Homo sapiens: one gene and its partners. The protein of the gene in region 2 interacts with the protein of the main gene of each other region in a biochemical or structural test. Each region holds a gene or a part of one and is shown on either strand. Other genes may lie near its edges.

Region 1 (3,500 bases), on a different chromosome or scaffold from region 2:
CAAAAATGCAAAAACTAGCTGAGTGTGCTGGTGGACGTCTGTAATCCCGGCTACTCAGGAGGCTAAGGCAGTAGAATCACTTGAGCCCAGGAGGTAACGGTTGCAGTGAGCTGAGATCACGCCACTGCACTCCAGCCTGGGCGACAGAGTGAGACTCCATCTCAAAAAAAAAAAAAAAAATTAGCCGGGTGTGATGGTGTGCACCTGTAGTCCTAGCTACATGGGAGGCTGAGGCATGAGAATCACTTGAACTCAAGAAGTGGAGGTTGCAGTCAGCTGAGATCACGCCACTGCACTCCAGCCTGGGCAACAGAGACTCTGTCTCAAAGAAAACAACAACAACAACAACAAAACACTATTTTTACTGAGACAGCTCTTGATTTGGAATGTAAGTTCTGGAACAAGAGGGAGCTTTAATAATTAAGCTTCCTGGCCTGCTGAGAAGCTCAAGTTGTTTCCCATAGTTCTTCCCTGGCTTGAGCTGCTTGAATTTACTGATTGATTGAAAGGTTGGAGGCTGTCATTGCCAGTGCTTTGCAAGTCAGGTAACCATGACGGGAGGCAGACAAAAGCTGTAGCTTTTTCTTTTTTCCCTTTGCAGCATAGGCTTATCTCTTACAGTTCATGTTGTCTTGGCTGCTAAGAGCTTCATATGTGAGACCCAAACACACAGTGACATACACCTGCTCGGGCACCTGTTTCATTTTTGGCATTGAGGAGCTGGGATGTTGTTACTTTGTATATAGACAGCAGCAAATAAAACTTGCAAGAGGAGCTTCTCCTTTAAGGCCAAGAGAATTTCGAACTTCAGTTCTCTTAGAGTTTGAATGGTGAAGACTTACTGGATTTAAGCTATATCCCTCTGAGGGCAGGACCTGGTAGTAGACCTAGTACGTGATATCAGTCAGCACTGCTTTCCCTTTGATTTTATCGTAAGCCTTACCACAAAGTGGATCTGTCTGGGTTTGGGATTTTAATAGAATATGGCATGAGAAAGCAGAGTTTATTGCTATTTGCCATGCTGCTAGTCGTTATACTATCGTGGTGCTTTAAAAAGAAGAATACTGACCTGTGGTCTTTCCTTAACATAGATAGGAAAAATATCTAAAAACAAAAAGAAAAAACTGAAAAAGAAACAGAAGAGGCAGGCTGAGTTATTGGAGAAGCGCCTGCAGGAGATAGAAGAATTGGAGCGAGAAGCTGAAAGGAAAATAATAGAAGAAAACATCACCTCAGCTGCACCTTCCAATGACCAGGATGGCGAATACTGCCCAGAGGTGAAACTAAAAACAACAGGATTAGAGGAGGCGGCTGAGGCAGAGACTGCAAAGGACAATGGTCAGTGGGGCCTGGAACCTGGGCTGCATGGGGTTCTCAGAGCTCCATTAGTAGGGTTCTGCCAGGTCAACATGGGGGCTGATTTGTGCTGCTGCTGCAGATGACAAGGATGATTCTCTCCAACTCCCTATTGGGAAATATGGGAAATAGCCTCGTACTTCATTTGTGAACTGTATGCCAGAAATATGTTAACATTTCAAAATAGTTTTTAAAAATGTAAAATAATTGAGAAATTCCATGTTTCTATCATGCTAATGATGGTGCTTTATTTTGTCATTAACTTTTTACCTAACTGTAATGCACCACAAGTCTGTTTCTGAAGATTATAGAGGGTAGAAATGGAAGTGCAACTTTATTTAGAAAGAGTTATTTTCCCTTAAAGCTAACTTTTTCTTATAAGAGCAGGCCAATTACTAAATGAATGAAAAATGAGATTTAGAAAACCTGAAGGTTTTACCCCAAAAGCCAAGAGGTGTTTACCAGGTGGTACATAAGCATATTCAAAATGTATTTTATTGATGGAGATAAGTACTTAATGAGGCTGTATTAAGGAGAGTAACAAGTTCTAATTCTTGACCCATCAAATTCTTAAGGTGAAGCTGAGGACCAGGAAGAGAAAGAAGATGCTGAGAAAGAAAACATTGAAAAAGATGAAGATGATGTAGATCAGGAACTTGCGAACATAGACCCTACGTGGATAGAATCACCTAAAACCAATGGCCATATTGAGAATGGCCCATTCTCACTGGAGCAGCAACTGGACGATGAAGATGATGATGAAGAAGACTGCCCAAATCCTGAGGAATATAATCTTGATGAGCCAAATGCAGAAAGTGATTACACATATAGCAGCTCCTATGAACAATTCAATGGTGAATTGCCAAATGGACGACATAAAATTCCCGAGTCACAGTTCCCAGAGTTTTCCACCTCGTTGTTCTCTGGATCCTTAGAACCTGTGGCCTGCGGCTCTGTGCTTTCTGAGGGATCACCACTTACTGAGCAAGAGGAGAGCAGTCCATCCCATGACAGAAGCAGAACGGTTTCAGCCTCCAGTACTGGGGATTTGCCAAAAGGTAAGTGTTTCTTCCCATCAACTGTCTGCCATCGCTGACTCCAGGGACGTGCCTTTAACAAATGCTGTGAAGGAATTGGCTGGAAGTGGCCAAGCCCTGTGTGTGTGTACTGATCAGTTTTATTACTTTTATACTCCTGAAGAAGTAATGTGATTTAAATAAATTTTCTATGCCATTAGGCTATTTCTTGCTCTCTGCATACCAAATCTTATTTCTGACCAGTTTTCATTTTTAATATATTTAGTCAGCAGCATCATTTGCAAAAACCTTCCAGTTTTAGCAACTTACACCTTTCTAGAATGTGTAGTTTAGTTTAAAATTCGTATCTTCTTCCATCTAATGTCATTATATTTAGTTTAGTTTAGTTTTGTTTTGTTTCTATTCAAGAAAATTATGCCTCCTCTTTGACTCTATTGAGAAAGAAGTGTCATATTGTCTTTTGATAGTTGTTCCTGATTATAGGACCCTACTATTGGTAACTGGCCCAGGATTGTAATTTTCAAGGAATTGGCATGGATTTAAATGTGATGACAGATTATAGATTGGCTCTTGTGTTCTTGTCTACCTAAGAAGGCTTGACTTATTCAAAGCCTTATTTTGGGAGTGAATGCCAAGTGACTCTAGTAAGTGAAAACTGGGTAACACAGCTGGTTTCCATACTGGCTTATGGGGGAAAAGCTCTGAAACCTCCCTCTGCTCCCTCTACTGACAAGACTGTTTAACACACAGCGAGTAAAATTGATGAGCCAGCCCTGCAAACAGCCCGACATTCTGCAGCCCCTTTGGTTCCAGCAGTCTGGAATTGCACGCCGAGTAAGCTGGCTTTGTTACGCACTGGCTATGATGAATCCTCCTAAGGATTTGCTTTCTTTACTTGGCTGGACGTGGTCAGCTCCTGTTCCCCTTTCCAGGGAGTGTTTGAAGGTGCTTACATAGAATGTAGGTTAATTTCTGGGAAAGGGCAGTAGTGAGAGGTACCTTATCCAGACTTATTGTTGCTGTTGCAGTTCAATTTTTCTCTTACTTGAAGTTTCTTTTTTTTTTTATGAGATTGAGTCTTGCTCTGTCACCCAGGCTGTAGTGCAG
Region 2 (3,500 bases):
CAATTTGTTCCAAAAAGAAAACCAGTCTGGCTTCTTGAGAGGATTATATTTTAGAGTTTCCTGATTAAATACATCTTCTTAAGCTACATTTTTTTAAACTAAGTTTTGTAGATTTTGTTTGAGATTATAAGACATATATTCATTGTTGGGTGTGGTGGCTCATGCCTGTAATCCCAGCACTTTGGGAGGCTGAGGCGGGTGGATCACAAGGTCAGGAGTTTGAGACCAGCCTGGCCAACGTGGTGAAACCCCGTCTCTACTAAAAATACAAAAGTTAGCTGGGCATGGTGGCGCGTGCCTGTAATCCCAGCTACTCGGGAGGCTGAGGCAGGAGAATTGCTTGAACCTGGGGAGGTGGAGATTGCAGTGAGCCGAGATTTCGCCATTGCGCTTTCAGCCTGGGTGACAGAGTAGAACTCTGTCTCGGAAAAAAAAAAAATACATATATTCAGTCTTCATCGTGATCCTTAATGGAATACACACTGCATCCAGGACACACTGGAAAGATTTTGTTGATTTGCTCCAGAGTTAATAGGTTTGAATATCAGCCATCTAGAAAATTTTCAGTATTCTCAAGTAAAGGCAAAGCATTGAACCTTGTTTAATGCCCCAACACTGAGGTGACTGACTGTGCTAAGATGACCAGAGTCCAGTGGACCCCTTTCCATTGCTAAGTTTTTCTTAGGGAGGGTCTGGGGATGGAAAGAGTTTCAAGTCAGGTTTAGACAGTGATGGGAATGTTTTGGTCTGGATGCACATGGTATTCCTTCAACGTAGTCCTCAGGCTTTGAGTGGATATGCTAACATGAGGTCTGAGATTGAATAAGAGGGGAAAGGAGGAATAAATTCCACTATGGCAAGTCAGGGACTGTGTGGGCTTCCGAGTTTCCCTTTTTATTTTGAAAGCTCCAGGCCGGTATTTGGCTCTTCTCAGATGGTATATAAAGCTGGTACTGACTCTAAGGTGAAAAAATGCAATTGAATTTTTTTCCAGGACTTACCCTTCTACTAATTCCTTGTTTTCTTACTTTCTTTTCTGCCCTTTTCTTCTTCCATCATCCAGTTGGCCAGTTCTACTTCTTAATCCGGAAGAGAATCCACCTGAGACCTGAGGACGCCTTATTCTTCTTTGTCAACAACACCATCCCTCCCACCAGTGCTACCATGGGCCAACTGTATGAGGTAATGGTTCTGGTTGCACAATACTGGATGCCGTCCAGTGCAGTCTGGCATCCTCTAGCCCTTGTTCTAGATGCGTTGATAACACATCTGAGAAGTGGGGCAGAAGGTGTTATTTATCCGGATCCTCTTACATATGGCAGTGTAAGGCTCTGAGAGATTAGATACCTCTTGTTTTTTAGGGATTAGCCACTCTACTAGATTTAATCCTTCTGAAATCTTGTCTGACTATAGTCTTGTCTGACTATAGTGTTTTAATGCTGGACTGTTTATTGAAACAGCAGGAAGTGATTCCTGATAGCAAAAGTTCCAAAGCGTCAGCCCATCGCAGTTCCTGCTATTCTGGTTGGTAGCATGTAATTTGTAATGCATTCAGAATCCAGTTCATTATTTTACTCCCATTTAGCAACAGATTGAGAAAGCACGTAATAGTAAAGCCAGCTCCTTCTAACTCTGAGGCCAGCCTCTGCCAACTGAAGGATTCTCCCCACAGTCAGCTTCTTCTATGAACTCTGAAGTTTTGGCTTAAGACAACCACATTGATACTAAACAAGGGGAAACTTTTCTTAGAACAAAACTAAAACTGTGAAACAGATTCCACATTATCTGGGCACAATGAATCAGATAAAATGAAATATAAAATTAAGGCAAAGTCTGTAAATGGATTCATGTCTTAACAGATAAACTCAGGAGGAATAATTTTTATGTGATGTGGTTTAATTGGAAGTGTCAGAATCTGAGGAAACTATAGTGAAGGACTTTATTATTACTGAAAATATAACCTGGGATTATAACTATTGTTTTTTGCAGTATTTTGCATAAGATGCTTCCTTCTCATTGTGCTCCGTTAATGAATTACGTAAACTTCTAATAATCCTGAATCTTTTTTTGCATAGCATATATTCCCTGTTAGTATATGTCCCATTATATATCCATCTGTGGTATCTATGTTCCCCTTGCTAGGAGTGAGCTCTTTAAGAGTGAGGACTGTGCCCTAGTCATCTTCATATCCCTGATACCTATGTGTAATATGTTTTCAATGAAGGATTTTTGTTTGTGAACTCAGAGCTCAAAGTGTAATTCCAACCACTTCTCCCTATCCTTTGCTCCTCTTTTAAATGGGGACTAATGATACCTTCCATACCTGCTTTACAAGGTTGTGTGAGGCTCAGCATCTTAGAGCTAATGAATGAATATGTTTTCTAAACTGTTGTCTTATCTCTTCCCCTAGGACAATCATGAGGAAGACTATTTTCTGTATGTGGCCTACAGTGATGAGAGTGTCTATGGGAAATGAGTGGTTGGAAGCCCAGCAGATGGGAGCACCTGGACTTGGGGGTAGGGGAGGGGTGTGTGTGCGCGACATGGGGAAAGAGGGTGGCTCCCACCGCAAGGAGACAGAAGGTGAAGACATCTAGAAACATTACACCACACACACCGTCATCACATTTTCACATGCTCAATTGATATTTTTTGCTGCTTCCTCGGCCCAGGGAGAAAGCATGTCAGGACAGAGCTGTTGGATTGGCTTTGATAGAGGAATGGGGATGATGTAAGTTTACAGTATTCCTGGGGTTTAATTGTTGTGCAGTTTCATAGATGGGTCAGGAGGTGGACAAGTTGGGGCCAGAGATGATGGCAGTCCAGCAGCAACTCCCTGTGCTCCCTTCTCTTTGGGCAGAGATTCTATTTTTGACATTTGCACAAGACAGGTAGGGAAAGGGGACTTGTGGTAGTGGACCATACCTGGGGACCAAAAGAGACCCACTGTAATTGATGCATTGTGGCCCCTGATCTTCCCTGTCTCACACTTCTTTTCTCCCATCCCGGTTGCAATCTCACTCAGACATCACAGTACCACCCCAGGGGTGGCAGTAGACAACAACCCAGAAATTTAGACAGGGATCTCTTACCTTTGGAAAATAGGGGTTAGGCATGAAGGTGGTTGTGATTAAGAAGATGGTTTTGTTATTAAATAGCATTAAACTGGAATTGACAAGAGTGTTGAGCATCCCTGTCTAACCTGCTCTTTCTCTTTGGTGCCCCTTATCTCACCCCTTCCTTGGAATTTAATAAGTCTCAGGCATTTCCAATTGTAGACTAAAACCACTCTTAGCATCTCCTCTAGTATTTTCCATGTATCAGGACAGAGGTGTCTTATGTAGGGAGGGGGCAAGTATGAAGTAAGGTAATTATATACTACTCTCATTCAGGATTCTTGCTCCCATGCTGCTGTCCCTTCAGGCTCACATGCACAGGAATGCTACATGATGGCCAGCTGCTTCCCTCCTTGGTTATCATCCACTGCAGCTGCTAGTTAG
Region 3 (3,500 bases), on a different chromosome or scaffold from region 2:
CTCGCTCTGTCGCCCAGGCTGGAGTGCAGTTGGCGCGATCTCGGCTCACTGCAAGCTCTGCCTCCCGGGTTCATGCCATTCTCCTGCCTCAGCCTCCCGAGTAGCTGGGACTACAGGCGCCCGCCACCATACCCGGCTAATTTTTTGTATTTTTTTTTTTTTTTAGTAGACACAGGGTTTCACCGTGTTAGCCAGGATGGTCTCGATCTCCTGACCTTGTGATCCGTCTGCCTCAGCCTCCCAAAGTGCTGGGATTACAGGGGTGAGCCACCGCGCCTTGCCGTTTTTTGTTTTTTGTTTGTTTGTTTGTTTTTTGAGACAGAGTCTGGCTCTGTCATCCAGGCTGGAGTGCAGTGGCACAATCTCAGCTCACTGCAACCTCCACCTCCTGGGTTCAAGCGATTCTCCTGCCTCAGCCTCCCGAGTAGCTGGGACTACAGGCATGCACCATGACACTGGCCAATTTTTGTATTTTTAGTAGAGACTGGGTTTTACCATGTTGGCCAGTCTGGTTCTCAAACTCCTGACCTCAGGTGATCCACCCACCTCGGCCTCCCAAAGTGCTGGGATTACACGCGTGAGCCACCATGCCCAGCCTTAATTTTTGTATTTTTAATAGAGACAGGTTTCACTATGTTGGCCAGGCTGGTCTCGAACTCCTGACCTCAAATGATCCGCCCTCCTTGGCCTCCCAAAGTGCTGGGATTACAGGCATGAGCCACCGTGCCTGGGCTGTTTTGTTTTGTTTTTATTTAGAGAAAATCCCGTTTGCTTACTTGCTTTTTTTTTTTTGCTAAATAAACAGAATTATTCTGTCTCCTAAAAAACACCTGAGACTGTAATTGTAAATAGATATATATGTTTAGATAAACCTATTGAATTATTGAGAGACAAGAATATCATGATATACAACCTTTTTATTGTTTTTGGATGAGACTGTTGTAGGCTCAATCTAAATCATTAATCTTACTCACTTTTTTTAATAACATGAATTCAGTAATACTATGTGGCTGATTTGACTATTAAGATTTTCTTCTGTTGAATTGATTGTATAAAAGAAACTTTTTATTGATAAAAGGTATATAGATGTTGAAAAATGTGATGTTAAAAATGCCTTTTCTTACCATTGTTTCTCATCCTGGTTTTTCTGATTGTATTTCCCCTGTTTCTTCCAGGAGGTTATCATCTTGTGAAAATTGGAGATCTATTCAATGGGAGATACCATGTGATCCGAAAGTTAGGCTGGGGACACTTTTCAACAGTATGGTTATCATGGGATATTCAGTAAGTTTTAGTGGTTCTGTAAAAGAATTAGTTAGATGATGTCTAAATGTGTTTGTCTGAGTTTCCACTGCTGATCCAGGCTTCAATCTATCTCTAGCCTGATTCATTTATCAGAATTTTGTTGTTGGCAATAGTCTCTGTATTCTTGGAGAAACCACTTTTCTTTCGTGAAGAATCAGTATTATATATCTCCCTTTCTACTATAGAGACAGGAGTGATTAAATTAATGCTGGTAAAGCTTTTGTCGTTTGATTTTTTTGTGATTTTTATCATTTTCTTTTCACCGAAGTATTTCTTCTGGCTGCCTATGGGAAAATATTACAGCTTTTAACCTTTTAGTTTTTGCCTATATACAGATATATACACAGAACACTTGGAATTTGGTAATATCTTTCCCCTTATTTATCCTCATTTTGCAGTTTTGCTTGTAACTCAGGGAGATATTCAAAAGAAGGATTTTAACTCAGAGAAAATGTTCAACAACTGAGATTATCTGAGAACAGATTTTTTATTCTTCCTATAAATGAAATCTGGCCAGTTAGTGTCATTAACAAGTATAAATGTTCCCATAGAAGTAGCTTGTTTGGGCTACAGGGAAACGTGAAATCAATATTTGTCCTTTTTAACCATCTTATAGCTAAATCTTAGCTTCCTAAAGTAAGGGTAGGCTATGTAGTCTTAATTGCCTGTGTTTGTTTCTTAGGGGGAAGAAATTTGTGGCAATGAAAGTAGTTAAAAGTGCTGAACATTACACTGAAACAGCACTAGATGAAATCCGGTTGCTGAAGTCAGTGAGTATTAGATTATATGTATGAATGTGAAGAATTATAAATAAATCAAGTTTCATTGAATAAAAACACACCAAGTGGAGGCTCTTTAGCATGGATAATTTTCTCTATAAAGTTCTAGTAACCTTAAAGAGGTAAAGGAAGACAACAATATTTACACATACCATGCATGTAGTAGGGAACTGGTGGCAAATGCTATGATGAGAATTCTTCTTACACGCATGAACCAAAAAAAAACCTTTCAAATGAATAAAAATATTCACTGAGCATGTTTTACAGGCCAGGTAGCTACTGTCATAATGTTTTTTTTTCCTACTATGGTTAAAAGGAAAGTTGTGTAAATAAATGTATAGCATCTTTTTTGTTGTTTTTCAAATATGTTATAGAATACATAATATAAAAATACTGTATTTACTGATTCCATTTATACCTGGAAACTGAGATAAATTCTATCAAAAATGTATTTTTAGTTCTGTTTTAAATTAGGAATATGCCAGTGTGGTAGAAGGAACTTAAATTCAGAATTAGAAAACCTGGGTTTAGGTCGCCTTTACCCCGGTATGTCCTCCATGTTACCATTTTTTTCTTTCTGAGTCTCAGATTTTTTATTCATAAAGTGAGAATGTTGCACCAGGAGATTTCTATGGCAGTAGTTTTCTTTTTTATTTTCAACTCCTGGCCTCAAGTGATCTGCCTTAGCCTCCAGAGTAGCTGGGGTTACAGGCACAAGCCACTGCATCTGGCTTAAGACAGTACTTTTCAGAATGTCCGTTTGTGACAAGATAAGGAGCCTTGTACCTACCCAAAAGTAAATCAACATACTGTTTTCTTCATTGAGAAAGTTTTTCCATGAAAAAAAAAATGTCCGCTGAAAAAAACAGTGTGGTTAGTGCTGTAGTTGATTTGCATCCTGCAAAATCTTCTTAGTTCCTCATAGCCTGGTAATCATCAGTTAATTTGGAGGCCACACTTTGATTGATATCAGGGAGCAAAATAGTTTAATTAGAAAAATAGTTCCTGTTGGTTGTATTTCCTCTTATGAATTGACTATTTAAGATTTTTCTCCATTAAAGCTATTGAAATTTTAGTATATTTTAAAAATAGATTTATGTGAGCTCTTTCTTGTAGTTAATTTGCTGTAAGTATTCTTCCCCTACCATCTGGTTTATTTCCATGCTTTACCTTGTGCTAAACACTGTCTCTTCCCCACTACAGGTTCGCAATTCAGACCCTAATGATCCAAATAGAGAAATGGTTGTTCAACTACTAGATGACTTTAAAATATCAGGAGTTAATGGAACACGTATCCTTTTAAAAACCTATTTGAGAATAAATCATCCCAATCCCAAAGAAAGGAACTAGATTTGTTGTGTAGATGGCCTTGGTGTCTTTTCTAAGGCAAACTATAATAAAATTACCTCTTTTATT
Region 4 (3,500 bases), on a different chromosome or scaffold from region 2:
AGATAAGAAAAATAACAGGTTAAATGACTTACCCAGGGCTACAGAGCAAGTAGCTAGGTTGGGATACAAACCCAGTTCTGTCTTACACCTATGTTACATTATAGTAGTTTTATTAGAAGCCTTTTCCAACCCTTCAGAGCCCCTATGTTTATGTCTGGAGAATAGTTGGAAGCCAGAAGTTTATAAGGCCCTTAAAGTAGATCATTGTCTATGCACACTGATGTGTAACCTTTGTGACATTCCCTCCATCTTGTCTTTCTGGTAAAACAATCAAATTTAAAAATCATTTCTAGGTGCCCTTACCAACCTCTCAGCCAGACTTTGTCTAAAGCTAGGGAACTATGAAACATCCTTTAAGTTAGTAATTTTATGGCTGGGAGTTGATACTGGGATTTGAATCCTTGCTCTATTACTTATTGGTTTTGAGACCTTGGACAGGCTACTTTCTCTGAGCATTGGTTTCCTTATTTTTGAAGAGGAATCACACTTACTTTACATGGTTATTATGAGACTATGAGAACATATAAAAAAATGCCTGACAATAAATAGTAGTTGCTTTAAGAGTGTTAGCAATTATGAGAGGAAGGCAGTGCTGGAAGAGAACTAAGTGTTGCTTTGTCATATTTATTTATTTATACAGGGTCTTGCTGTGTCACCCAGGCTGGAGTGCAGTGGTGCAATCACAGTTCACTGCAGCCTCAACCTCCTAGGCTCAAGTGATCCTCCCATCTCAGCCTCCCAAGTAGCTGGGACCACAAGTGCATGCCACCACACCTGATTATCTTTTAAATTTATTGTAGAGATGGTGTTTCACTCTGTTGCTCAGGCTCTTTGCCAGATTTTGATAACCCTAAGTAGTCTCTGCTAGTCTCCCCAAAATTCTCATCCCATTTTGTATATTTCCTAGGATCTCCTTGATCCTTTAATCATAATCTCATGATTAAATGAACAGATGTTATATGCAGAGAAAGGAATTGAAAGAGAGAGAGGGTTGAGGTTAGTTGGAGGTCCCTGAGAAGGGGCTATTGATTTTTCCTTTGTCTTATATTCCTTGAGTCATACTGGCAGCGTAGGTACTACTCAAATGTTTGTGAAAGATGCAAGGGAGTCTTTCTAGGTCCTGCAGTTTTAGAGGAAGACAGAGACAACAGGCAAGCATGTTTTCCAGGAAACCCTATTATTCATTTAGCCTGCCCTTGACATAGTTTAGCTATGTTTAACTTAGTAATTTAGCTAAAGTTTTCTTTCTCTACAAACATACTTCCTTCTGGATCGTTTTGTTTGCCCCAGACTGGTACAACTTCAGGAGCATGCCTGTGTTTCCCTATAAGCCCCTACTTGTTGAGTTTATCTTAGTTGTCTGCAGGTGCCTTAAATGCCCTGAGTAATCTAAACTTCATCAGAATCCTCTCCCACACACAGGAGTGGATGTCAGGTGATGACCTCACTGAATTCGTTAAAGTCAGTCCTGCTAACGAGTGGCCTTTGGTGGCACAGTGATAGTTTTGCACTTGATTAGCATTCTGTTAGAATGCATGAGGAATAAAGTTTAGAAAGCTGACATAAAAGGAAATGAGATAAACCTTGCAAAAAACCCAGTCAAACCAGGGGAGCGTGTCAATAGTAGGATGGACCTTTATGTCTTGTGAAAGGAAATGCAATATTTTACATGTTGTCTAGTTTTTAGGGGAAAGCACTGTTTATGTCTGGTTTTTGCTCAAAATTGTATCACCAGTACCGTTCACAGGGCCAGACACATAGTAGGTGCTTAGTAAAGATTTGTTTTGTTAATTGCTTAAAGTTCTCCAGTTTTGCTCATGGCCTAAGCCACCAAAGGCTGATATAGGTAAAGGAAATGGAGATATCTAGAGAACCACCCCATGGTGGCAATTCAAGCATTAGGTGAAGATTTGAAACCTTAGATCATCTCTAATCTTTAGATTCTGGGATCAGGTAAAACAATTTCTAGGAGGGCTTAGAATTTTTATTATTTAGGTTTATGTATCTGGGGCCTTGGGTACAGTCTGCTGAAAAGTGCCTATTCATTTCTTCTAATAGGTTGGGTGGTGGCAGCAGCAGTTGCTGCTACTGCTAATAATAATAAAAACTATTATTTATGTATAGTTAATTGCATGCCTGGCTTGGTACTGTACTTAGTGCTTTACACACATAATCTCATTTAATCTTTGCAATAACTTTGTGAGGAAGATACTATTTTAAAGTCCCTTTCCATAGATAAACTGAGAACTACAGAAGTATTAATAACTTGCTCACGTCTCCACAATAAGTAGTAGAGCTTGAATTCAAATCCAGGAAAGCCTGATCCCTCAGGCCTGCTTCCTTAATCTATATAATACTGTCCACTCCTAGTTCGTGTCTTTTAGTCCTAGTTCTGTTGTGTGATTTGTGGTCTTAATTTCCCTCTCCTGGTCTTAGTTTTCTCATCTATTTTACAACTTGAGATTACTACCTTTTCTTCCCCTTTTGCCCAGGCTGAAGTACAGTAGCATCATCACAGCTCACTGCAACCTCCACTTCCTGGTCTCAAGTAAGGAGATTGCTACGAATTCTAGCATTTCATACTTAGTCTCTGCTTGAAGGAGCTACAGCAGCTCATTTTCTGGGCAAGACAAGTTGTAAATTCATTTACCCATCAGTTTTTAGCCTGTATGTCTGGCATTCTCAATCAAAACTCTTCAAAACTGACCAGCCCTTTTATTAATCTTTATATGCCTTTATATGCCATGAAAGGAAAGGTTGTTCATGCTTTCAAAATGTAGTTTGTAAACTGAATGCGTTATTAATACTAGTACTAGTTATTGTTAATGCTGTTTCTGGTTATTATTTATTTAGCATCCTTTTATTGTACACCTAAGGGTATCAGGCTAAGTACTTTATATGCATTTTCCATAGTCATTACAGTACTCTTTTTATAAACTAAGAAAACAGGTTTAGACAGGTTAAATAAATTGCCTGCTTCCCCACAACTTGTGACAGTGCTAAGATATGATCTCAGTCCTATATAACTTTAAGGTTCATTCTTTTGTTTTGTTTGCTTTTTCTACTACCTTGGTTACTCATTTCATGGAATGGGGAAAACCCAGTGGTGCTAGAAGAGGCGAGATTAATATGGAATATAATTATGTAATTTTTCTGAGTCTTAGGGCAGCCAGAGTAGACACAGCTTAAGGGACAGATTCTCATCGGGAGCTGAAGAGATGTGCTAGTACAGTATGGTATGGGATGTACAGTATTAATCATTAGGTCAAGGGATGTGGGAAGATGGTAGGCTGATGTTAGATGAGGTGGGAGGTCAAGAATTAATGGCACAAAGTGCACAACAGGAAACAGACATTCAAGGGATCATGAAGGGAGCCAAGATGATACATAGCATGTTGGATACTCATTCTGATTGGTTGTACAGTTGATAGCTGGCAGAAAATGGGCAGCTTACTTAAAGATTTGGAATGATAAGACAATTCCTTTTATTTGTGTAGTCT
Region 5 (3,500 bases), on a different chromosome or scaffold from region 2:
TAAATCTCTATCTCTGTATCTGACATGGCATAGTTTACTGTGGTGGAGGGAGAACCCAGTGTTTGTGTTTGTTTTCCAGTGATAGTGCTGACTTTTTTTCATTACTGCTTTTACATTTGGGTGATCTTCAGAAAATGATAGAAATGAAGAACTGCTACATTTCTTAAAGTTTAGCGTCTTCTAGTTTTATGTGTGAGATCTTTCTAATGTAATAGCATCTTGGGAGTTATCGCCTGCAAAACCCATCCTTTTAGTTCCAATGCATCACATAATTTTATGAACAAGCTAAATTATTTGCAGCATATATGAATATTCTTAAAACTAAATTGCTTTACGTGTGTAGAAAGATAAGCAAAAATAAAACACTGTACATATTTCGTTTTCCCTGTAGTTTATTTTCTTTAAACATTTTTTTCTGTGACTTCAAAATTCCCAGACACTTTACATTTTCACTTCAGGCATGAGTATTAAATGTCTGTGTGTTCTGCGCCAAGCCAGGGCTGGGAGCTGAAGATGAAGAGACACGATGCAACCCCCACCCCACAGCAGCCGGCCTCGAGGGGCACCAGACCTCGTCCTCCATGACCACACAGGGCCTGGGGTACCTGCCAGACGTACCCCAATGAAAGCGAACTGAGGTCTCCATCACCTTCGCTCTAGTTTGAGCTTATGGAACCCCAGCTGTAGGTCCCAAGCACAGTATCTTGAATTAATGAATCAATCCATTAATTAATGCAAATAATTTGCCCCTAAGGGGTTGCGAGAGGGTTTAAGCCAACTCCTGCCTGGAGGCACGTTGCTGGGGGAGGTGTGTGGTGGCCCCTGTGTCCTGGACTCTTGCCTGGTTTGAAATCGGCTCCGGCCCTCCAGGGGACCAGTCTTCTGTGGCCACGGCAGCAGGGAGGGGGCCCTCCATCCGTGACTGCCAAAGCGAGTCTCTGTGTTCTGTCTGGTTTCTGGAAACCTTGGCCTGCCCTGTAGGGTGAGTGGGCCACAGTGTGCTGGGAGGAACAAGCAGGTTTGGGGGATTCTGCTGTTGGGTGTGGTAAGAAGGCTGGGGGAGGAGGCGGGAAAGGATACCACCCTCTGATGGCCCCACTGGGTGGGCCGGGCCAGCAGGCAGCACACGGGGCAGCAGCTCTCACAGTCACAGCAGCCCCGCGGTTCAATGAGCAGATGACAGAAGGGGGCACCCATGGGTGCGGTGGGGCCTCAGACTCGAGACCTGCCCTGTGTTGTGAGCAACGATTCTGAAGCGCAGCTCCCGCAGGGTCCACTTGGGAAGATGTCAGGAGCCCTCGGTCTTCTGGGCCCGTCCGCGGCGCAGCCACGGCAGTTCAGGTGATGGCCCCACATGCCCATCTCTGATCTAGTTTTACCTGACTCAGTTTCCTTGAGAGCCCAGGGGCCCCAGCAGTGGGAGGACCTGTTCGGCTGACTTCCTTAGGCAGGTGGGGAAGAAAGGCCACCTGCCACTCACCAGGCCCAGGGCTATGCCTGACGCAGTAGAGGGCTCTAGAAAGGCCAGTCAGGTTTCTCTGTGTGAAGTTCCCAGTGGGGAGGGATTGTGCTGGAACCCTCCAAAGGAGCTTTATTTACTTAGACCTGGTGCTTCTTGGAGGAGGAAGTGCCTCTGGATTGATTGCCTCTAATAGTTTATGTTCTGAGCTCAAACGGGAAGGCAGGTGCGGTGAATGCGGCTGAGTCTCTGTGGGGTGCTGCAGTTGGGGTCCAGAGCTGAGTCTTGCCTGTACTCCGGTTTTATTTTAGCAGACATTTGCTAGACATTAAATCTCAAGAGAGTGTCAGGCGCGATGGCTCACGCCTGTAATCCCAACACTTTTGGAGGCTGAGGCGGGTGGATCACCTGAGGTCAGGAGGTCAAGACTAGCCTGGTCAACATGGTGAAACCTCGTCTCTACTAAATATATAGAATTAGCTGGTCATGGTGGTGGACGTCTGTAATCTCAGCTACTCAGGAGGCTGAGGCAGGAGAATCGCTTGAACCCGGAAGGCAGAAGTGGCAGTGAGCCGAGATCGCACACTGCACTCCAGCCTGGGTGACAGAGCGAGACTCCGTCTCAAAAAAAGAAAAAAAAAAGAAAAAAGAAAAAAAGAAAAAATCTCAAGAGACAAGATTTAACCTGTGAGGTGGCTGAATCCATATAATAAGATATTTTGCAATTTGGAATGTAACAAACTCATAAAAAATAACAGAATAAATGGGGTTGTACTGCTGAACTGCAGACAGCTGCACAGTATGCTGGTGAGAACATGGGCCACAAAGCTTGGGTTCTAATCTCAGCTCTACCACTTGCCAGCTGTGTGACCTTGGGCAAATTACTTAACCTCTCTGGGCCCCAGTTGCCTCTTCTTTACAATGGGGTAATACCACTATTCATTTCAGAGGATTTTTGTGAAGATTAATTGCAATAAAAGCACCTGAGAAGCATTAGCTCAGGGCCAGGCCCATAGTCAGTGTTTTAATAAATGCTGATGATGTTATTAATAGTACTGAGAACCCAAATGTTTCCTAACCAAAAGCATAAACTGAACCAGTACTTTTCAGGAATACAGTGAGCTGGTTTAAACCACGCGGAAGCCCCATGCTATCTAAAATCATCCCAAAACAACCAGTTTTAGTAAAGCCCAGCCCCACGCTGTAGGGAAACCCAGCCTTGTTATTCTCCTGCCTTCTTTATCCATGGGAAAACGAAGGCTGAGAGAGGCTTGGTGGCTTGGCCAAGGTCACACAGCGAGGAACCCCAGTCAGTGTGACCTTGGCTGTCAGGACGATGATGACTTACTGCCTCTATTGAAGTGGAATGGAATTTGATCATGAAAATGCTTTCCCATCCAAGTGGAAGTAGAACTGTGCAGTGGGGTTCATACATTCATTTATTCACAGGTGTTTACAGGGCATATTCAGCCGTGCCTGTATGTGTGTTTAAGCTTGGTGCGTAGGTTTAAATGACTCCCCCATGACCCCCGTCCCCCTCTGGGTAGTGTGGGCAGGGAGAAGTGTGGCGATCATCACATAACCTGTTCCACCAGCCCCCCGTCCAGCTCCGACGCCGGCCTGCGGTTCCCGGACAGCAACGGCCTCCTGCAGACCCCACGCTGGGACGAGCCGCAGCGGGTGTGCGCCCTGGAGCAGATTTGCGGCGTGTTCCGCGTGGACCTGGGCCACATGCGCTCCCTCCGCCTTTTCTTCAGGTAGGAAGCATCTCTGGGCGCCTCCTGGGAGTTGGCCTGTGTGTGTTTTCCCTGGCAGCCTGGGCTTTGCAGCCGGTGCAGTGCACGGCTTGGGGACACAGGGCCCTGGATGGAGTCTTCCCAAGCGTCTGCTTTCCTCCCTCGCTGATCTTGTGGGCAGTGATTCCCCACTGCAGCTCCCTGACAGTTCTCAGGCTGGGTGAGCTACCGAACTCACTCCCCTACCTTCAGCGTGATGGTAGCCAGCGGTTGCTTGCAACTCTGGCTTGGGAGAAGAAACCAAA
Region 6 (3,306 bases), about 59 Mb from region 2:
GTGGGCAGATCACAAGGTCTGGAGTTTGAGACCAGCCTGGTCAATATGGTGAAACCCTGTCTCTACTAAAAATAAAAAAATTAGCCAGGCGTGGTGGTGGGTGCCTGTAGTCGCAGCTACTCGGGAGGCTGAGGCAGGAGAATCACTTGAACCCGGGAGGTGGAGGTTGCAGTGAGCTGAGATTGGCGCCACTGCACTCCAGCCTGGGTGACAGAGCGAGACTCCGTCTCAAAAAAAAAAAAAAAAAAAGATGTAAGAAGTAAATGGTAATAATATATTGATGGGATAAACATATCGTAAGGTCTTGACATGAAATTGCTCTATACCCAGAAGAATGTTTATTAAGTACACCAACTGTATGTCTATGAAGGTGACCACATGGTGGCTCCCATCCTTAAAAGCTCAGTGGTTGTCAAAGGTGTATGATGACATTGGTTCTTGCAAGTGTCATTAAATAAATGTCTTGCACTGGGCATGGTGGCATGTGCCAGCAGTTTGATCTATTCAAGAGGCTGAGGCAGAAAGATTGCTTGTGCCCAGGAGGTTGTGCTATGATGGTGCCTGGTGAATAGTCATTGCGCTCCAGTCTAGGCAAGGTAGCAAGACACTCTCTCTTTAAAAAGAAAGAAAAGTCTCATGTAGAAGGATGAAGTGAAAAGTTTCATAAGCCAAGTTAGTCTTATTTTTGGATATGACGTCCCAAATATCTGTTGTGTCTCACATCTAGAACACAAAGCAGTCTCAGAATTTTGCCAGCCAAAAGTAAAAAGAACTTTATACAAATTATGAGTATAAATTAGTAGTTTCAAAGACCAGAGTCTTTATGAATTTATTATAAAATAAATAATAGAGCATTGACAGATTTATCAGTAAGGCATAGGAAAAGAAGGGTTGATTGATAATATATGCAATTCACATTATGAAAGGAGTAGTCAGCTAGAGAAAAGGATTTTGAAATGGAAACCTGACTTTTGCTTAGTTAGGAAATAGGGAACGAAGTGGCTGACCTGTTCAGTTTACAGCATGGAAGATGGAGGGAAAATAGGAATAGAAATGAGACATAAGGACTAAATTAATTTGTTCTTATTAAATTTGGTCTGGGAAATTCTTAGTATGCATTTCTTGTTTTTTTAGGCCTTAGGACATTTCATTTGTGATAATTAGAGATATCAGGTGCTTATTAAGCAGTTCATGAAGTGTATAGTGGTTGACTTATAGGACAAATATTTTCATGTCTTGTGCTGGGAATTGTATCATGAGGTCTTAGTCTTATAGGTTGGATTCAGAAGAGAATCTGAATTTAAACTCAAAAGTAACTGCTTTAAGACTCAGTTTAACCTTGGGAAGGTAGTATTGTATAGTGTGTGCTTATAGGTCTGAAGCCAGACTGCTTGAGTTTGAACCCCAGCTTTTTATATTCATCCTAGTTAGGTCTTTGGATAGGAAGGTAAACCTCTTGGCCTCATTTTTATCATGTGTAAAATGGGATAATAATGGAGCCTATCCAAGAGGATTATTTTAAAGATTAAATAATTAGTCGATATGAAGTATTTAAAAAGAGTGCCAGGAATATAATCAGCAATCAATTTTTAAAATGTGAAACACATTACCTATCATTATCTATCCATTACTGCTTATTAGAAAACAGGAATTTTAAGCCTGCTGTGCATTTAACTAATACATGTTTATGTTTATAGGTGGTGAAATTGCCTCTACCTTTGATCACCCAGAACTGGTGAAGCTTGGAAGTTGCAAACTTATCGAGGAAGTCATGATTGGAGAAGACAAACTCATTCACTTTTCTGGGGTTGCCCTTGGTGAGTGATTATGTAGATCCTGGTTAGGGTGTCTAAATTCTTGCTAGGCTCTGTTGAAGTAAAGGTTATTGTAGTTACTAGAATAGCATATCTTACAAGTCTTAACTCTTCAGAAGCATGATACATACTTTGTTTCAGTCTCTTGAGTCAACCTCATATTTACCGTGTCTTTGTGAACAGTGCATGTTCAACAGTTTTTTTTCCTTGATAACTTAGAACCATTATGAGCCTTGATTGTTGGAGAATGTATAATACAGGAAGACAGGTCAGCTTTCAGAACCCAGTAATATAACCAACACCGGCATAAATAATAGAAGGCAAACTTTTTATCCCTAAGTGGTCACTGTGTCTTTTAATTTTAGGTGAGGCTTGTACCATTGTTTTGCGTGGTGCCACTCAACAAATTTTAGATGAAGCAGAAAGATCATTGCATGATGCTCTTTGTGTTCTTGCGCAAACTGTAAAGGACTCTAGAACAGTTTATGGAGGAGGTAAGCATTTAGAAAATGTTGAATATATTTTTAATTTCTTAAAGTACAATATAAGTCATAAGTGGTTTTAATGGTTCTTACAGAAATCTTATATTGCTTTTGCACTAAATTTTAAAATGCTTGGCATATCTTAAAGTCAGTAATTCAGTATCTTGGAGACAACTAAGCATTGCAATATTTTATTGGAATTTTAATCTTTAGGCTGTTCTGAGATGTTGATGGCTCATGCTGTGACACAGCTTGCCAATAGAACACCAGGCAAAGAAGCTGTTGCAATGGAGTCTTATGCTAAAGCACTGAGAATGGTAAGTTAATCAAAATGAGAGATCCGAACTTAAGTTTTGTGGTTATTGATAGTTTTAAAATGAGTAGAAAATGAACTGGTTAATACTGCTTTTAAATTTGATTCTGGAGTTTCTCCTCTTCGTGAGCAGTAACTGAAGCAGATTTTACATTGTTCCTAAATGTATAATTTTAAAAAGCTATCCTAGTTAGGAGTAAATCAGTGGTTCTTACAGTAGAGTGAGTAGTTACTTGTTTTCTTCATTTTCATAGTTGCCAACCATCATAGCTGACAATGCAGGCTATGACAGTGCAGACCTGGTGGCACAGCTCAGGGCTGCTCACAGTGAAGGCAATACCACTGCTGGATTGGGTAAGCAATCAAGGGGAACTTTGTGGCCGTTGTTAAAAGTAACTCTTTTCACTAAGCTTTTTTTTTCTTTTGGAACATAAAGAGTTACAATAACCGTATAAAAGACTCTTTTGGACTTTGTCCTCATAATCATTACATGTGCTGGGAAAATGTGTGTGACTTTATATGCTCAGCATTTCCCAAACTTTGTTATTCCATAAGACATGTAAAACTGGTTAGAAGATTTGTAACTATTTGGTATATAACGACTATAGGATTTAAATATAAACAATACTTACATTCTGAAAAATAACATAAACTATTATGTTGTTTATACAATCAGTATTAACTTCTAATTTCATAG
Region 7 (3,500 bases), on a different chromosome or scaffold from region 2:
CCCTGCTGGCCACCAGTGCCAGCCCCCACTGCTCCTCCTGCTGGCAGCCCCCAGCCTCGGGGTTTGCTCTGGGGGAGAAGCAGAGCTGGTTCTAGAAACTATCACTGATGCTCCTGCTGTGAGGCGCCAGGCCTCCCACTCACCAGCTGGCTATATCCTCCCACAGTAGGGGAAACTGAGGCCCAGGGAGGCAAAATCACTTGCCAAGATCACCAGGCATTGACAGAACTGAGACTGGGCCTGAAGGGAGCTGGGCTCCCCTTCTTTCCCATCCTGTCCCTGGCCTTGCTCCCCCAGGGCCATTCCCCAACAGCCCATGCAGCTTTCCCCCAAGATGCCCTCTCACTGGTCTTGGGGAGGCAGGGGGCTCCCTCTATCTCCCACTCGCACTTATGCCTGAGGCCCTCCTGTGGTTCCCTGCTCCCATCCACCCTAAGTGCCACCCCTGACACTGACCGATGAGGCTGCGGTATCCATGCAGAAGTGAGTTTCTCCGCTCCTGCTCAGGGCTCACAGATTTCCACTGCAGCTTCATGCGGAAATACTCATCCCTGAGTGACAGAGGGAAACAAGATGTGAGGCCGCCACTGTCTGCAACACCCAGAGACCTCCAAGCCTGGCGCCACCTCCCAGGTCAGCCCTGCAGAGCCCCTCCCTGACCACACAGACCCAAGCAGGTCACCTCGTCATTCTTGCCACTATCCCTTACACTTCACCTTCCTGGCATCTCTCACTACATAGCCTTGTGGCCTTTTGATGAAAATTTGTCACCCCCCACTGGACAGGGCACCAGGGACAGGGAATCGTCCAGCACTGCTGCATCCTCAGTGCCTGGCAGGTATATAACCTACACCAGGAATGAGGAGAGACGGGCCCTCCTAGGTTATAAAACATGCTGCAAAACTGTGATCATTAAAACAGTATGGCACAGGAATGAAAACTGCAATGGAGACAGACCATACAGGGGTGAGGATGGGTCTGGCTTGATCATTGCCGTATTCCACAGGCGCAGGATGGTGCCCAGATACAGCAGGTTCACAACCAGCGTCCACAGAACTTGCCCATTGGTGCCCTAGGAGGTACCAGGTGTCATGCCTGGCAGGGCAGGGCCTCCTGAGAACTCACGTTTTCTTGCGTATGTGGGCCTTGTGCTCCTCAGCTGTGCCTTCCCAGCTGAGGTACCCTAGGAGGAACTTCCAGGCCTCGCGCCGCAGGCTGGGGCTCAGACCCTGGGGGTGCAGGAGGGCAGGCAGCTCAGTGGGGCCTTGTTCTGGCCCTGCCCCATTCTTCCACCTGTCCTGGCACTCACCCCCGAGAAGATCCGGTTCTTCAGCTCAGGGACCTGCTGCAGGCGACCTTCAGGGCCCACGTGGCGTGCCCACTCCTCCTCTGTAACTGGAGGGCCCCGCTCCACGGTTGGCCGAGGCCCCAGCTCCACCTGCAGGCAAAGAGCAAATGAGCCTGGGGCTCGGCGGGGTGGTGGGGGGACCCAACCCAGCCTCAGTCCACAAGCTCAGAGAGCTTATTAGCTTGACGGATGACTAACATTCAGGGGCAGGCAGCAGCCTCTTCCGGGGCTCAGCAGCCAAGTCATCCCCCAGTTAGGAGGGGTCCCCCAATAAGGGTGAGCAGGTGCTCACAGTGTCTGGCAGAGCCATGAGCGCTTTCCTCATGCACCCCCTGAGGGTGTCCCATTACCATCCCCGTTTTACCAAAGAGGAAACTGAGGCCCAGGGAAATGAAATCATGCGCCCAGGGAGACACGGCCAGAAATAACAGGGAGGGTCCACTCACTACTCACACAGGAAATGACCTCGAATCCAGGCTCGGGCTCATCGTCGGGTGGCGGGGGAAGGTCGGAGGCGGCTCCCTCAGGCTGTGGCTGCAGGGCACCCCGGAAGAAGTTGGTCACTCGGGAGAAGCTGCTGAAGGTGGTGGAGTAGGGATCCTGGAGGAAGCGCTGGGGACGAGGCCAAAGGGAGGTCACGGCCCGCCCCTTCTCGTCCCTCCCTGCCCACACCCGCCAGGCCTCCTGCTGGGGACACTCACTGACACCACATTGGAGCTGTCCTGGTCAAAGAGCTGCAGGTGGTGGAAGGAGTTGGAGAGAGCAGAGGAGTCGTGGGGGAAGACAAGGTAGAGGCGGGAGTCCTGCGGGGAGCTGGGAGGCGGGAGGTGACGCACAGGTGATGCACAGGTAGGGGCCCAGTGTCCCAGGCTGTCTGTGCTCGGCCGACATCGGTTCCAGCTGCAGCGTCCCAACCACCCCTGGGCAACCCCTCATTTCAGGGAATGCTGTTAAAGGAGGCCCACAGCTGGATCCCAGGGGTGGGCACATGACTCGGGGCTGGCCAATGAGGGCCTTTCACCTTCCGGTCCAGTGTGACTGACTCAGGGACGAGCCAATGAGAAGCAGCTCTGGGATCTTGTTGGAACGTGGGGAAAGAGGTGCCTTCTATCCAGCCGGGTTGTTAAGCCACGGATACTGGGGCCCCAGAGAATAACGAACTCAGAGGGAAAAAGGATAACTGTTTCTAACATTTTGGGACCTGGGTCCTGCCTGAAATCAATACTCCTTTTTGACTTTTTAGTTATATGTGCTGGTCAACTCTTTGCCTGCCTTTAAATCAGTGTGAGTTGTGTTTCTTTCACAGCCCCGAGGGGTCACGCTGCAGCCATGGTGGGACTGGGCCCGGTTTAAGGCCCAGCACTGGGAGAGAGCTCACCTGGCCAACAGCAGGTAGCGGCTGAGGACGCGGAGCAGGGCGCGGGTGCCCCCGCGGTGGAAGTGCAGTGCGGGCAGGGAACCTCCAGCCTGGGTCACCAGAACCAGGTAGGCCCAGCTGAGGCCTGGCTTGGAGCGGCGGATGGACTTTAGCTCCCCCAGACTCACTGAGAAGGCCCAGGAGCCCTGGGGGCAGCTGGGCTCTGCACCTAGGGAGACGGCACTGTGTTGGGGGAAGCGCGTGGGAAGCCAGAGTCAGCCTTATCAACCACAACCCAGGATGTTCCTTCGGCACAGGCATCTCCTGAGGGCCCCGCCACAAGCCACCCCTCTGCCCCTGGCCTCACATTCCTTGGAAGCACAAATGAGTAAGATGGGAAGGGGGCCCAGTGGACATGTACCTTTCCAGAACCTTCCTAGGCACCCCTCGACCTGCAGGGTAAGGGCCCTATTCCTCAACCTGGCACTCGAGGCCCCTCGGGTCTGTCCTTCGCCCCTGCCTATCTTACCTCCAACCTTTCTTCACTCAAAATCCCACACTTGAGCTACAATGAAAGGCCAGCGGCTCCCTAAACACACGGGGGCCGCCTGCCTCTGGCTTGCACGGGCTGCTCTCTCTGCCAGAAGAGAAAACTCCCAAGAGTCCCTCAGTGCCAAGCTCCAGCATCACCTCTTCCTGGAAGGAATCTCCATTCCCCAGAGGGGTCACGTGCCTTCTCTGGATGTCCCCTGCACCCTGTGTGACCCCAGGATGGTGCAAATCACCCTAACTGGC

The links.
Region 1: of the proteins of GABARAPL1 (region 2) and SRPK2, one has a biochemical effect on the other in vitro, tested with the Homo sapiens proteins (one large-scale study listed by BioGRID and IntAct).
Region 3: of the proteins of GABARAPL1 (region 2) and SRPK1, one has a biochemical effect on the other in vitro, tested with the Homo sapiens proteins (one large-scale study listed by BioGRID and IntAct).
Region 4: the proteins of GABARAPL1 (region 2) and TRIM32 form a complex in vitro, tested with the Homo sapiens proteins (one study listed by BioGRID).
Region 5: the proteins of GABARAPL1 (region 2) and TBC1D16 form a complex in vitro, tested with the Homo sapiens proteins (one study listed by BioGRID).
Region 6: the proteins of GABARAPL1 (region 2) and CCT2 interact in a test that uses a peptide from one of them, tested with the Homo sapiens proteins (one study listed by BioGRID).
Region 7: the proteins of GABARAPL1 (region 2) and TBC1D17 form a complex in vitro, tested with the Homo sapiens proteins (one study listed by BioGRID).

The regions. Positions count from the first base shown.
Region 1 is NC_000007.14:105,140,922-105,144,421, reverse strand, and holds part of SRPK2 (SRSF protein kinase 2), read left to right. Parts: intron 1-1,091; coding exon 1,092-1,338; intron 1,339-1,931; coding exon 1,932-2,414; intron 2,415-3,500. UniProt on the Homo sapiens protein: Serine/arginine-rich protein-specific kinase which specifically phosphorylates its substrates at serine residues located in regions rich in arginine/serine dipeptides, known as RS domains and is involved in the phosphorylation of SR splicing factors and the regulation of splicing.
Region 2 is NC_000012.12:10,219,377-10,222,876, forward strand, and holds part of GABARAPL1 (gamma-aminobutyric acid receptor-associated protein-like 1), read left to right. Parts: intron 1-1,063; coding exon 1,064-1,182; coding exon of another isoform or gene 1,183-1,335; exon of another isoform or gene 1,336-1,606; intron 1,607-2,410; coding exon 2,411-2,476; 3' UTR 2,477-3,500. UniProt on the Homo sapiens protein: Ubiquitin-like modifier that increases cell-surface expression of kappa-type opioid receptor through facilitating anterograde intracellular trafficking of the receptor. Involved in formation of autophagosomal vacuoles.
Region 3 is NC_000006.12:35,886,599-35,890,098, reverse strand, and holds part of SRPK1 (SRSF protein kinase 1), read left to right. Parts: intron 1-1,175; coding exon 1,176-1,284; intron 1,285-1,987; coding exon 1,988-2,075; intron 2,076-3,287; coding exon 3,288-3,375; intron 3,376-3,500. UniProt on the Homo sapiens protein: Serine/arginine-rich protein-specific kinase which specifically phosphorylates its substrates at serine residues located in regions rich in arginine/serine dipeptides, known as RS domains and is involved in the phosphorylation of SR splicing factors and the regulation of splicing.
Region 4 is NC_000009.12:116,690,305-116,693,804, forward strand, and holds part of TRIM32 (E3 ubiquitin-protein ligase TRIM32), read left to right. Parts: intron 1-3,500. UniProt on the Homo sapiens protein: E3 ubiquitin ligase that plays a role in various biological processes including neural stem cell differentiation, innate immunity, inflammatory resonse and autophagy.
Region 5 is NC_000017.11:79,952,373-79,955,872, reverse strand, and holds part of TBC1D16 (TBC1 domain family member 16), read left to right. Parts: intron 1-3,054; coding exon 3,055-3,216; intron 3,217-3,500. UniProt on the Homo sapiens protein: May act as a GTPase-activating protein for Rab family protein(s).
Region 6 is NC_000012.12:69,595,459-69,598,764, forward strand, and holds part of CCT2 (T-complex protein 1 subunit beta), read left to right. Parts: intron 1-1,697; coding exon 1,698-1,817; intron 1,818-2,179; coding exon 2,180-2,308; intron 2,309-2,509; coding exon 2,510-2,613; intron 2,614-2,863; coding exon 2,864-2,963; intron 2,964-3,306. UniProt on the Homo sapiens protein: Component of the chaperonin-containing T-complex (TRiC), a molecular chaperone complex that assists the folding of actin, tubulin and other proteins upon ATP hydrolysis.
Region 7 is NC_000019.10:49,880,702-49,884,201, reverse strand, and holds part of TBC1D17 (TBC1 domain family member 17), read right to left. Parts: intron 2,935-3,500; coding exon 2,727-2,934; intron 2,162-2,726; coding exon 2,050-2,161; exon of another isoform or gene 2,028-2,049; intron 1,961-2,027; coding exon 1,802-1,960; intron 1,439-1,801; coding exon 1,310-1,438; intron 1,230-1,309; coding exon 1,126-1,229; intron 941-1,125; exon of another isoform or gene 552-940; coding exon 457-551; exon of another isoform or gene 1-456. UniProt on the Homo sapiens protein: Probable RAB GTPase-activating protein that inhibits RAB8A/B function. Reduces Rab8 recruitment to tubules emanating from the endocytic recycling compartment (ERC) and inhibits Rab8-mediated endocytic trafficking, such as that of transferrin receptor (TfR).